Regions from separate parts of the Homo sapiens genome. Here all the other regions are linked to region 1. The links come from fine-mapping of genetic effects on gene expression. A gene starts in region 1. Each other region holds a variant in brackets. All regions are shown on one strand. Distances are from middle to middle. Region 1 holds the start of TIGIT (T cell immunoreceptor with Ig and ITIM domains). Region 2 overlaps ZBTB20 (zinc finger and BTB domain containing 20). Region 3 overlaps ZBTB20 (zinc finger and BTB domain containing 20). Region 4 has its middle 21 kb from the start of TIGIT.

Region 1 (2,689 bases):
CCCACAGGGAGGCTTGTCAAGGCTGCACTCCCTCCCCGCCTCCTAGAAGACCTCAGCCCATCTCAACCTCCCTTTTCCTTTCACATTCACTGCCTGTATTGTATAATTAGCACCTTACTAAATGCCTGGCTTATGACTACACAACTTAGCACGTTGCCCCCTCGCATATTCTGCTATGTAGCTTCATGGCCAGCTTGTTATTTTCGTAGGCCTATTTTGTCTACCCACTTAGAATATAAGCCCTTGTCAGCTGATACCACCTCTTCTGTTTTTATTTTGTTTTGTTTTTATGTTTCTTCCTGCGGCCTAGTTCTATGCTGGATGCATTATCCTTTGAAATAAAACCTTGCTGTTTGGTTGATTGTCATTTGCAGTGCCTGAAAAAACCTTCAGGAAAGCCAAGAAATCCAATAGCAAAGGAAGCTTAGCAGGAAACCCTGCTTCTCCCAGGCATAACCACCCTCTCAGCACTTAACCTCTCCCCAGCAACCCTGGGCACATCTCCATCCTCAGATAGTTCAGAAGGCAACATAAAAACTAATTTATACCACAGTTTTTAAATATTTGTGTTCCCCTCCCTCAGAAATATTTGACTCTGATTTTTAATATAGAAGAAATAAATTTAACAAAAAATCAGTCTCTAGTGGTAGAACCTCTGGAATCTGTGAAAAAGACATTTTCAATTCACAGAGAACTTATAATGTTTTCCTGGAAAGTTCCTGAAAGGCAACAGAAAAGAAGCTGGAGCAGGAATGAGCTTCTAAAAGCAAACTGGCAATGCCTCCTGCCCAGCCCTTCTTCTTCTCCTGCTCCTTCTTGTGCTGGCCAGTCAGGCTCCTCCAACCCCGGAAGTCTGCAAAGTCCTTCATCTGCCACCAAAAACAGAACCCCACCTCATTCTCAGAGATTGTCCTTTCTTAAATAAGAGTACACAGGACTCTAAAAGTTGCAATTTCTTTCTCTCAAGCAGCTGTGGCATGCTCTTGGAGTCTTCCCTACACAAGCACCCAAGTCTCCAACCAAGCTTAGCCTTGTTTTTCCTCCCTGCTGCTCTGCTGGGTTTCAGGCCTTACCTGAGGCGAGGGGAGCCTGCCTCAGCCCCTGGGCCCAGATCAGGAGGAGACACCAGCGCATGCTTCTGCCCAGAGGGCCTACAGGAAGCAGATGTGGCCTCTTCTGCCACTGAAAGTAGCCGACTGCAGATAGGACGGTAAAACTGAGCCTCTGAGAAAAGACGGTCTCGGAAAAACCAAGTTTGGCAAAAACCATATTAAAAACACATAAAGTTGTCAACAAATACACAAACTGCATAGGGTGAGCCACAAGAAAGGCCATGAAGGAAACATTTAAAAATAAATGAAAATTGTGGTTAGAGGTACACTCGTCTTTGGATTATAGTCAATCTATTGTTTTTAAGTTCTGTCTTAATGTTTTTTCTAAAAATCAGCCTTTATTCAAAGAGCTCAAGGGCATCTGTGTAGTGCCCAAGATTCTGAAGAATCTGCTACTGATGAGGAACTGTTGGCTGAGCTCCTCTGGCATCCTCCTGATGAAGAATGTGCAATGATAAGAGAAGCTTATCATTGTAGGGACTTACAGGCCAGGGACTGCACTTGAAATCTAATGAACAGGTGAACAAGAAGTGTTTACTTGGGGGATGATACATGGATGGGACAAAGGTCTTGGACAAACACAGCAACTTTCCCTTGAAGGAGATCTTCTACTCGAATCTTATTTCTTTTGTCTTGTTTATCTGGACTGAGACTTTATTGAATTCTGGCTTGATTTCTCTGGTGCAGTAGGATCAGAGGAGATTAGAGGAGAGAGCTTTCCTGTGCACAATGACCTCATGAGAGCTGGAAATGCAAAGAAGGGTGAGCCCCTGGGAGCTGACCCAGGAGAGGGATTGGTTGACATTTGCCTGGAGCTCCCAGCCCATCACCAGGTCCTACTATGGACCCATCCTTCTTTCCTCCCTCCCTCCCTTCATTCATTTGAAAGTCCCTGGGTGCCTACAAAGCACCAACCTCAACACCAGGCTCTGAGGATATGAGAGTAAATAATCACAGCCCCTACCCTCAAATAGTTTACAAAGCTTGTTCCTTGGTGAACTCAGTCAGGAGAGGGGGTAGAAGATCCACATTCACCTGCCTCGCAGGCTCTCAACACAGTTGCCTTGGGGATGCTCCATGTTGTACATCCTGAAAATCTGCATCTGCACCCAGAAGCATCTGAAGCCTGGTGCCCCACCCCCTCCATTCCAGCCATGCACCTCTAGCATTTCACACCATCCAGGCTCCTACCCTCCTTCTCCCTTGCAAGGTCTTCTATCTCAGGCCAGTTTTCTCCCCTCTCTGGGTTCTGCCTATCCCCAACTCTATGACTTGTATACCCCTTATACCCCACCTCCAGACCCTTAGACAATATACGCCTTACCAGCTTCTCTCTGCCTACCCAAAGCAACCTGTCCTTCAAGGCTCACATCAAGAGATGCCTTGCCTTTCAATAGCTACAAAGCCTTCAGCTGAAGGAGAAATAATACCTAATGTGTGTCCAAGGGAAGGTGCCAAGGTTGAACTGGAGGGATGTTTCCCAAACTCACTAAGGCCGGGGAGCCAGGAGTGGCAGGGCCAAGAGCAGCTAGTGGGACTAGAGCACAGAAAGTGGTGGACACTAGGATTTGGGCTAT
Region 2 (2,689 bases), 29 kb before region 1:
GTGCTCCTAGTGTACCTATTTATGTTATGTTAGGTGGCTGCTGCCTGTAGCCCTTGAGGAATAGCTGATTGCACTATTCAAAAATAAAAGCCCAGCACTGTTAAATTTAGGACCGTGTTTCAAGAAACAGGAAAGCTTTATCTTTTTCTGAACCCATTCCCCTTAGCATTAGAGCCATCTGACATGATGAAAACTATTAAGTAAAAACCACTACTGACCTTTACATTAAATAGCTGTTTTCCTCTTCTAAATAATACCCTTGATTTTAACTAGACTACTTCCTTTTATTTTCTGCCTATTGGCTTAATGTTTTACAGAAAATACATAGGTGCATGCTAGTTTCTCTACTTTGAGCTGAAACAAACAGGAGCAACAAAAGAGATGACTCACATAAGTGTGAGATAGACTGAATTTCCCACCTTCGTAGCACTGGTAACCTTTGTAAGAGCTGTTTAGAGTTGAGCTTTGGGTTATAATAGGGCTTTTTTTTGCACTAAATATGACTGCACTGCATTGCACTACTGAAATGTACTTACTTGTGCTGGGAGAGAGTGTGTTACGTATGGGAAAGAAAAAGGCAAATTATGGAAGTAGGAGCATCACTAAAATGCAGAGTTATTTTCATCATGCTTGATCTTAGCAGGGTTGGCGAGAATCTGTGGAATCTCTGTCAACTCTTGATCAGGCCTAGGAACCACCATGCTGATAGGATCTGTTTTCTTACTGTAAAGAAGCTGAGTTAGTACAGCAATTAAGAACATTTAAGAAAAAGTTTACCCAATCTTGTTTCTGACTGAGCTCTCAGTAAGAGTTTTAACAGTGAAGAAGCCAATTGATATGATGTAGAAGTCTTTGCCTTGGCCTCCTCCACAAAGCCCCTTGCTTGTGCACATTTTAGTGTGGCAGAGGGCAGTAGGATGTGCTCCTTTCAAAAACACATAGCCTTGTCCATATTGGAATTACTTTTCAGCCTGATTATGCTTCTCCATCCCTGGGTGAAACCTAGATCAGGCTAACCAAAGAGGAAGGCTATGCATGTGGTAAAGTCCTTTAAGATGACAGATAGGGAACAGTGCAATAAACACTGAAAACCAGTGAAGTGAAAGGTTTATTTTGAAACAAGCTAGGCCAACTTGGACATTGGAGGATGGATTAGAACATACTAGCTGCTCCATCATAGACTATCCTTACTAAGCAGAAGACCTTAATAGTGCCTAAAAGTTTAGTTTTGAAATTGGTTTTTTCCTAACTTTTCTTTGTTAAATTTATTTTTATTATCTTTTTTAATCTTAGAAGTAATCAGAGTTTGACAGCTCTTTAGTAACTGTTAATAAAAGAATCTTTCATCACAGGATAAGCAATAGATTGTGTGGGAAATAATAACACAAGAGTAAAGATGCTGAAGGACTCTTCTGGAACTCAAAGTGACAGTTTTGAAGGTTCTGGCACAGTAGGAAAGGATCACAACCCATATAAATGGCTAATGTTGAATTTCTCTGAACACTGTCACATATGGGGCATCAATTTGGAAAA[T/C]TCTCAATTGAGGCCCCTTCCCTAAGATTACAACATTGATAACCTGTCTTTTTCTCTCTCTTCTTTACTATCCGTCCAAGTCTACTATTCCAAGTTTAAATATTGTTCAGAAAGTTGTCAGCCTTGTTAGTCAGAAAAACTCCATTTAGAGCCATCCAAACTAGCATAAGAAATTCCTTAAGCACTCAAAGCATTATCTCTGTTTTAAGTAAGAAACTAAATCCAGAGCTTTTAACAGGTACTTAGAAATAAGTATTGGGTAATCACTAAGAGGACATTGACTGCACCAAACCAAAGCTATAGAAAGAAATGATTGACTTTTTAAAATATATTCACATTAACTGTCCTAGGATACTTCTCTTGAGGCTTTGGAAAACTTCTTCCTTGAAATTTGCATATCCACTCCAGTTCTGTCACCAAAGATTTTAATCTTCAGATCGCAATTTCCTCTCTCCCAGAAAAAAGTACTACAACAGGCTCAAGGGATATGCTTTGGTGGTCAAGGGATTACACTATGGTTTTCCTTCTGTTCACAATGGTATTTACAGGAGACCTTGTCATCAGAGGACGTACTGAACTATCTTTATGACTTTGGATTTGATCAGAGGTTTAAAAAATAGAAAAAAATAAACAACACTACTTGACACTGTAAATGATCTTTAATAGAGTCATGACCTGGAGACTGATGGAGAGAAAGAAACTTCCATGGAAGAGAGTGAGCTAAATCATTTAGAACCAAACAAAGGTCACTGGTGAAACATAGGGCAGCATGTACACAGTGCAGATCAGGGTTCTGTATGGCCAGAGCCAACAGCAGTGACCGGTGGGAGAGTCAGACAACTGGCCAATGAATTCAAGTGTTGAAAAAGCCACAGTCTGGATTTTGTTGTGATTTCTGGAGTGGTTGAAACGCCCATGCCCATGGCAAGGAAAATGCTTGGAGGCTGATCTGTTGTGATAGTGCCTTTCTTGTCGTAGTGAGTACTAGATTAATAATTTATTCAGTTACGCTTTTCTGTACCATTGCCTCCAGTCTTCTGAGGAGGTTTGAAGGGACAGTATCCACTTAGGATGAAGGGACAGGATATTGCTCTGGAATGCTGTGATTTGATGATATTTGCACTAGATTCTAAACTCTCCTTTAAACTGGAGCAAC
Region 3 (2,689 bases), 35 kb before region 1:
AGCGTAAGACAGTGAATTACCTAGTTGTCCCCACTGTATTCTCAAACATTCATTTTAATACTGGATCTTTACACTTTCTTTTTTCAATACGCTTAGAATTATTTTAACTAGTCTTCAACCTTTCCCTGGAGGCAGCTTGGCAATATAGTGTTCATTTTCCTGGGAGTTGTTTTTTTTTTTTTTTTTTTTTTTTTTTTCCAAAAAAAGTAAAACCAGAGTTTCAGGAACTCTTTATCCACAGAGGCTAATAGAAATAGAATTTGGAAATATCTATCTGAGACATTTTTAAATCTGAGGAATCCGTAAAATGGTGGCTCTTGGGTATCCAGCCCTCAGGATCTCCATTTACCTGTTAAAGTGAGGATTTGGTGCCTTTCTTCTTTAGTTGGGCCATCAAGAAAACTTCAGAAATCAGGCATTCTGTCTTCCTATACAATAAATATTTTCAGATCATATTTTCAGATAAGAGTCTTCAGCTTCCCTCAGCTATTCAACCCAATGCATGGAAAGCCTCAGTTGAATAAACTTTTCCACCATCCCAGGTGCCTGAAACTAGTGTCCTTCTTCACTTCTACATTCAGGACAAAATGAAGTCAGGTTTTTAAAACCTCAGTATAAAAGACCCCCTCACACTGGTCCAATATGAAGACTTCTCAGCGTGAACACTGGGGAATTCCTTCCTTTCATCTTTCCTAATAGATTGTTGTTTTCTAATCCCATCCCATTCTGCTGTACCTCTCCAGCAAGTCCCTTTTCACCTTAGCCAAGCTCCCTGCAATGCTCTTCAGTTGTGAAGCCTTGTATTCACTAAGGAACTACGTACTCTTAGTCTGCTTTGAAAGGGCTAATGTCTAGTGTAATGGCAAAATTACCAATCTGTTCTCCAAAGTGTTCCAGCAGATATATTTCTACTAGACAAACATAATTGTGAATTGACTGTTAGTGAGGCTGTTTCTTCTCTAATGATCACATAATATCCAAATTATATCAACTTCATTATTTCCCTCTTTCCTTTTCCTAACCCTTTCCCTTTATTTCTTGTTTCTCTTGAAGACTACTTCAAATTACCTATTTGTCTTCATTACTGCCCCCAAAACTCTAATAATTGTGACCCCTAACTGTTCATTTCTCTTCCTTTCTCCACCCCATTCTGAACATCCTTCTTTAAGTTTTATTTAATGAAAGAACACTAAAGTGAGTGAGTTCATAAACTTGAGACTCGTAGGCAGAGTGAAGCATGTCTTCATTTTAGCTTCAGAGTTTAAAAGTTATCAATATTCTTTTGAGAGTGGGAGGACCTGAGTCACAGTTTTAAATGTCAACTGTACTAGCTGAGGTCATTAATTCCCCTTACCTTCACGTTTGGCCAAAAATGAAGAGAAAAATATTTTCT[G/T]TTTTTTTTTTAAATACCACAGTGTTCAGGTTCTTCATATGAGTAAATCACTTTTGACGGAGAAAAAAAGAATCATTAATGTTGACTGTTTCCACTAGTCAAATTACTTGTTTATCAGACTTTAGATTATAGGAATCTAAAGAAAAGAGTAACATTTCAAAATAATTTTGATAACTGTTCAAGCCTTAGTGAGCTCTTCTCAAACAAGAAAAGCCACATCCACTTGAACACATTGTAGGAAAAATTAGGAAGAGTTTTTTTATTTATTGCCTTTTTGAAAAAAAAATCATTGATTTGTTTAGAACTTTGAGCAGTAACTTACTAATGGATGAAAAGATCCATAAAGTTTTGAAAGTGTCTGTTTTTGCAACCAGAGATTGCCTAAACATAAACTTAATATATACTTAAATAAAATAATAACAGAGCTAAATGGATACCTAAAGAGCCATGCAGTGCACTCCCCAGCACCTAAATACGCCCCATATAATTTGGTTGTCATGCTAGATCTCCCTGCAGTGGATTACAACTGTCTGGTCACCAGAGCATTGCCCAAAAGACTGACTGATACCATTCTGGGTGTATCCTTTTCAGGATGCTTATAATATCACATTCACAACAACTTCGTAACACAGTCTTTCCTGACTTCTGGTCCAATATTCTTGCCATGATACCACATCGCCTCTCAGCTTTAATGAAGACAAGTCCTGTGACATTTAGAGTACTATGTGGTTTTGAGTGCATAGGCGGTATGCTTTCAGTTCTTGCTTTACCCTTTGACAAAAAGAATCAACATTTAATATCAGAAATGTATTTTTATTTGACTTGAGATTTGACCCAGCTTTTATCTTAATCAAACCAGTTTATAACATCAACTCACACCATAGAGAACAATGAAATAAATAGCAGTTTTGAAAGCCTTTATGAGGCATGCATCTAGTAGGAAAACAACATCTCTTAAAGGCAATATTTACATTGCTTAGGACTATGATCTTCACTTGGAATGTTCTCCCAATCAATCCTATATCCTTCTTTTTCTTTGTCCATTCTAACTCCTGGTATTTTTTTTTTCTTAAAGTACTCTTTATCTAAAGTAATCCTCTCCTTAGGCACTGGCTTCCAAAGGAAGAAAGACTCTTTTAAATCCTAAAATGCTGTCATTTAAAGTATAATATGGAGGAGGAGAGGCTCTGGTTCTGATAGATCTTACTTGGTCCTCAATCTGGGATGCCTTCTTGATGCTGTTCTTTCTAGTTCCCCAAGAAGTATTCCAACCCCAAGACCCAGAATTTCTCACCA
Region 4 (2,689 bases), 21 kb after region 1:
ACAAGAGTCTCTGCCTGATAATCCAGATAATTCTTCTGGATCTTATCCAAGACCACCAAGGCAGTACCTCTGAGTCTGCAAGAGCCACAGCATTACTGGGCTTGGGGTGCCTCCTAATGCAGATACAGCTGCAGTGACCAAAATGTGGATCACAATACCCAAGTCCCTTTGAATACCTGGAAAGCCTTCCCAAGAAAGAAAGATGCAAACAAACCTAGACTGCAAAGACTACAATAAATATCTGACTTTCAATGCCCAGGCACTACTGAACATCCACAAGCATCAAGACCATCCAGGAAAATGACCTCACCAAATGAACTAAATAAGACACCAGTGACCAATTATGGAGAGGCAGAGATATGTCACAGAGAACTTAAAATAGCTGTTTTGAGGAAACTCAATGGAATTCAAGATAACACAGGGAAAGAATGCAGAATCCTATCAGATAAATTTAACAAAGAGATTGAAATAATTAAAAAGAATCAAACAGCAATTCCTAAGTTGAAAAATGCAATTGACATACTGAAGAATGCATCAGTCTCTTATGAACAGAATGAATCAAGCAGAAGAAAGAATTAGTGAGCTTGAAGACAGGCTACTTGAAAATACACAGAGGAGATGAAAGAAAAAAGAATAAAAAAGGATGAAGCATGCCTACAAGATCTAGAGAATAGCCTCAGAAGGGCAAATCTAAGAGTTATTGGCCTTAAAGAGTAGGTAGAGAGAGAGATAGGGATAGAAAGTTTATTCAAAGGGATAATAACAGAGAACTTCCCAAACCTAGAGAAAGATATCAATATTAAAGTACAAAAAGGTCCTAGAACACCAAGCAGATTTAACTCAAATGATATGGTTTGGCTGTGTCCCCACCCAAATCTCATCTTGAATTCCCACGTGTTGTAAGAGGAAACCAGTAAGAGGTAATTGAATCATGGGCATTGTCTTTCTTGTGCTGTTCTCATGATAGTGAATAGGTCTCACGAGATCTGATTTTTGTTTCGTTTTGTTTTGGTTTGGTTTGGTTTGGGTTTTTTTTGAGATGGAGTCTTGCTCTGTCATCCAGGCTCGAGTGCAGTGGCACGATCTTGGCTCACTGCGAACTCCACCTCCCAGGTTCACACCATTCTCCTGCCTCACCTCCTGAGTAGCTGGGACTACAGGTGCCTGCCACCATGCCTGGCTAATTTTTTGTATTTTTTAGTTGAGATGGGGTTTCACCGTGTTACCCAGGATGGTCTCGATCTCCTGACCTCGTAATCTGCCCATCCCAAGCAAAAGCTAAAAAA[T/C]TGTGTTAACACTAGACCTGTTCTACAAGAAATGCTAAAGAGAGTTCTTCAATCTGAAAGAAAAGGATGTTAATGAGGAATAAGAAATCATCTGAAGATACAAAACTCACTGCTAATAGTAAATACACAGAAAAATACATAATATTATTACACTGTAATTGTGGTACATAAATTACTCATATCTTGAGTAGTAAAATGAAAAGTCAATCAAAAATAATAACTACAACTTTTTAAGACATAGTACAATAAGATATAAATAGAAACAATAAAAAATTAAAAAGTGATAGGATGAAGTTAAAGTGTAGAGGTTTTATTAGTTTTTTCTTGCTTGTTTGTTTATGCAATGTCATAAATAAACATAAACAAAGTGTTATCATCAGTTTAAAATAATAGGTTAGAGCAGTAAAAGTGAAAGCTCTCAGAAAAAAAATGGCAGATAGGAGGCAGGACTAACTTGCAGCTCCCACTCAGATGGACAGAACAGCATGTGAAAACACACTGTGAACTTTAGCTCCAAGAACCACTGCAGGAACATACCAGGAAAACCAAAAGAATTCATAGACCCTTTGAAAGAAGTGGCTTTCCACTGCAAACTCCATGAGACAGCCAAAAATCTGTCAGTTCCAAAAGTGTGAAGGGGGAAATCCTGCCTCTGAACACACATCCTCACTGGGGAACCTGAAAATCCAGATCATAGGAGAAGGATTTAACCTTACCTAGAGCTTAAACAAATTTAGAGAGCCAAGCGAAATATAAAAGTAGAAGTAGCAGCAGGAAGAGCCCTGTAGGCACTCCCAGTCCTCAGGGAAGCCATTTCTGATTTTATCTCATAGGGGTCCTTGGGGAGGGCAGCCAGTGGAATTGGGGAAGGATCACAGGGAAAAGAAGGCTTCCAAAGGAACTTTGTAATAATTTTGACCGAGCATGAATTTTCCTGGGCAAAAAAGTTGGAGCAAGAGGGTGAACAAGAAGTACAGATACAAGCACAGAAGCTGCAGCAGGCAGGGAAGGGCAAGACCTGAAAGCCCTGCTTGCTTTCTCAGTGGGGAGGCTTGTAGACTGAGGTAGGACCTCAACCCTATGCACCAGAAGCCTGGATATAAATTCAGCTCTGTTGGCTGTTGGGAGAGCTGGCAGGAGTCAGACTGACCTTGCTGGCTGCATGGGAGCTGGGTGAGGCCAGTTATATTAGTCTGTTTTCACACTGCTGATAAAGATATAACCAACACTGGGAAGAAAAAGAGGTTTAATTGGACTTACAGTTCCACATGGCTGGGGAGGCCTCAGCATCATGGTGGGAGGCAAAAGGCACTTCTTACATGGCGGCAGCAAGAGTAAAAAATGAAGAAGATGCAAAAGTGGAAACCCCTGATAAAACTGTCAGATCATGTGAGACTTATTCA

Evidence for each region. PIP is the estimated chance that this variant, and not a neighbour inherited with it, causes the effect.
Region 2: its variant is fine-mapped to the expression of TIGIT in whole blood (TOPMed, PIP 0.92).
Region 3: its variant is fine-mapped to the expression of TIGIT in whole blood (TOPMed, PIP 0.90).
Region 4: its variant is fine-mapped to the expression of TIGIT in whole blood (TOPMed, PIP 0.98).

What each region holds. Positions count from the first base shown.
Region 1 is chr3:114,292,507-114,295,195 of GRCh38, reverse strand. TIGIT (T cell immunoreceptor with Ig and ITIM domains) reads right to left here and starts at 1,168. Exons shown (of 4, transcript NM_173799.4): 1 at 1,074-1,168. The coding sequence starts at 1,134.
Region 2 is chr3:114,321,758-114,324,446 of GRCh38, reverse strand. ZBTB20 (zinc finger and BTB domain containing 20) reads left to right here. Exons shown (of 12, transcript NM_001348800.3): 12 at 1-2,689. Among named protein-coding and RNA genes, the nearest start is that of MIR568, 6.5 kb to the right of the region's middle. The variant T/C (reference allele first, on the strand shown) is at 1,534.
Region 3 is chr3:114,327,218-114,329,906 of GRCh38, reverse strand. It overlaps ZBTB20 (zinc finger and BTB domain containing 20), which reads left to right. Exons shown (of 12, transcript NM_001348800.3): 12 at 1-2,689. Among named protein-coding and RNA genes, the nearest start is that of MIR568, 12 kb to the right of the region's middle. The variant G/T (reference allele first, on the strand shown) is at 1,394.
Region 4 is chr3:114,271,640-114,274,328 of GRCh38, reverse strand. No RefSeq gene overlaps it. Among named protein-coding and RNA genes, the nearest start is that of TIGIT, 21 kb to the left of the region's middle. The variant T/C (reference allele first, on the strand shown) is at 1,287.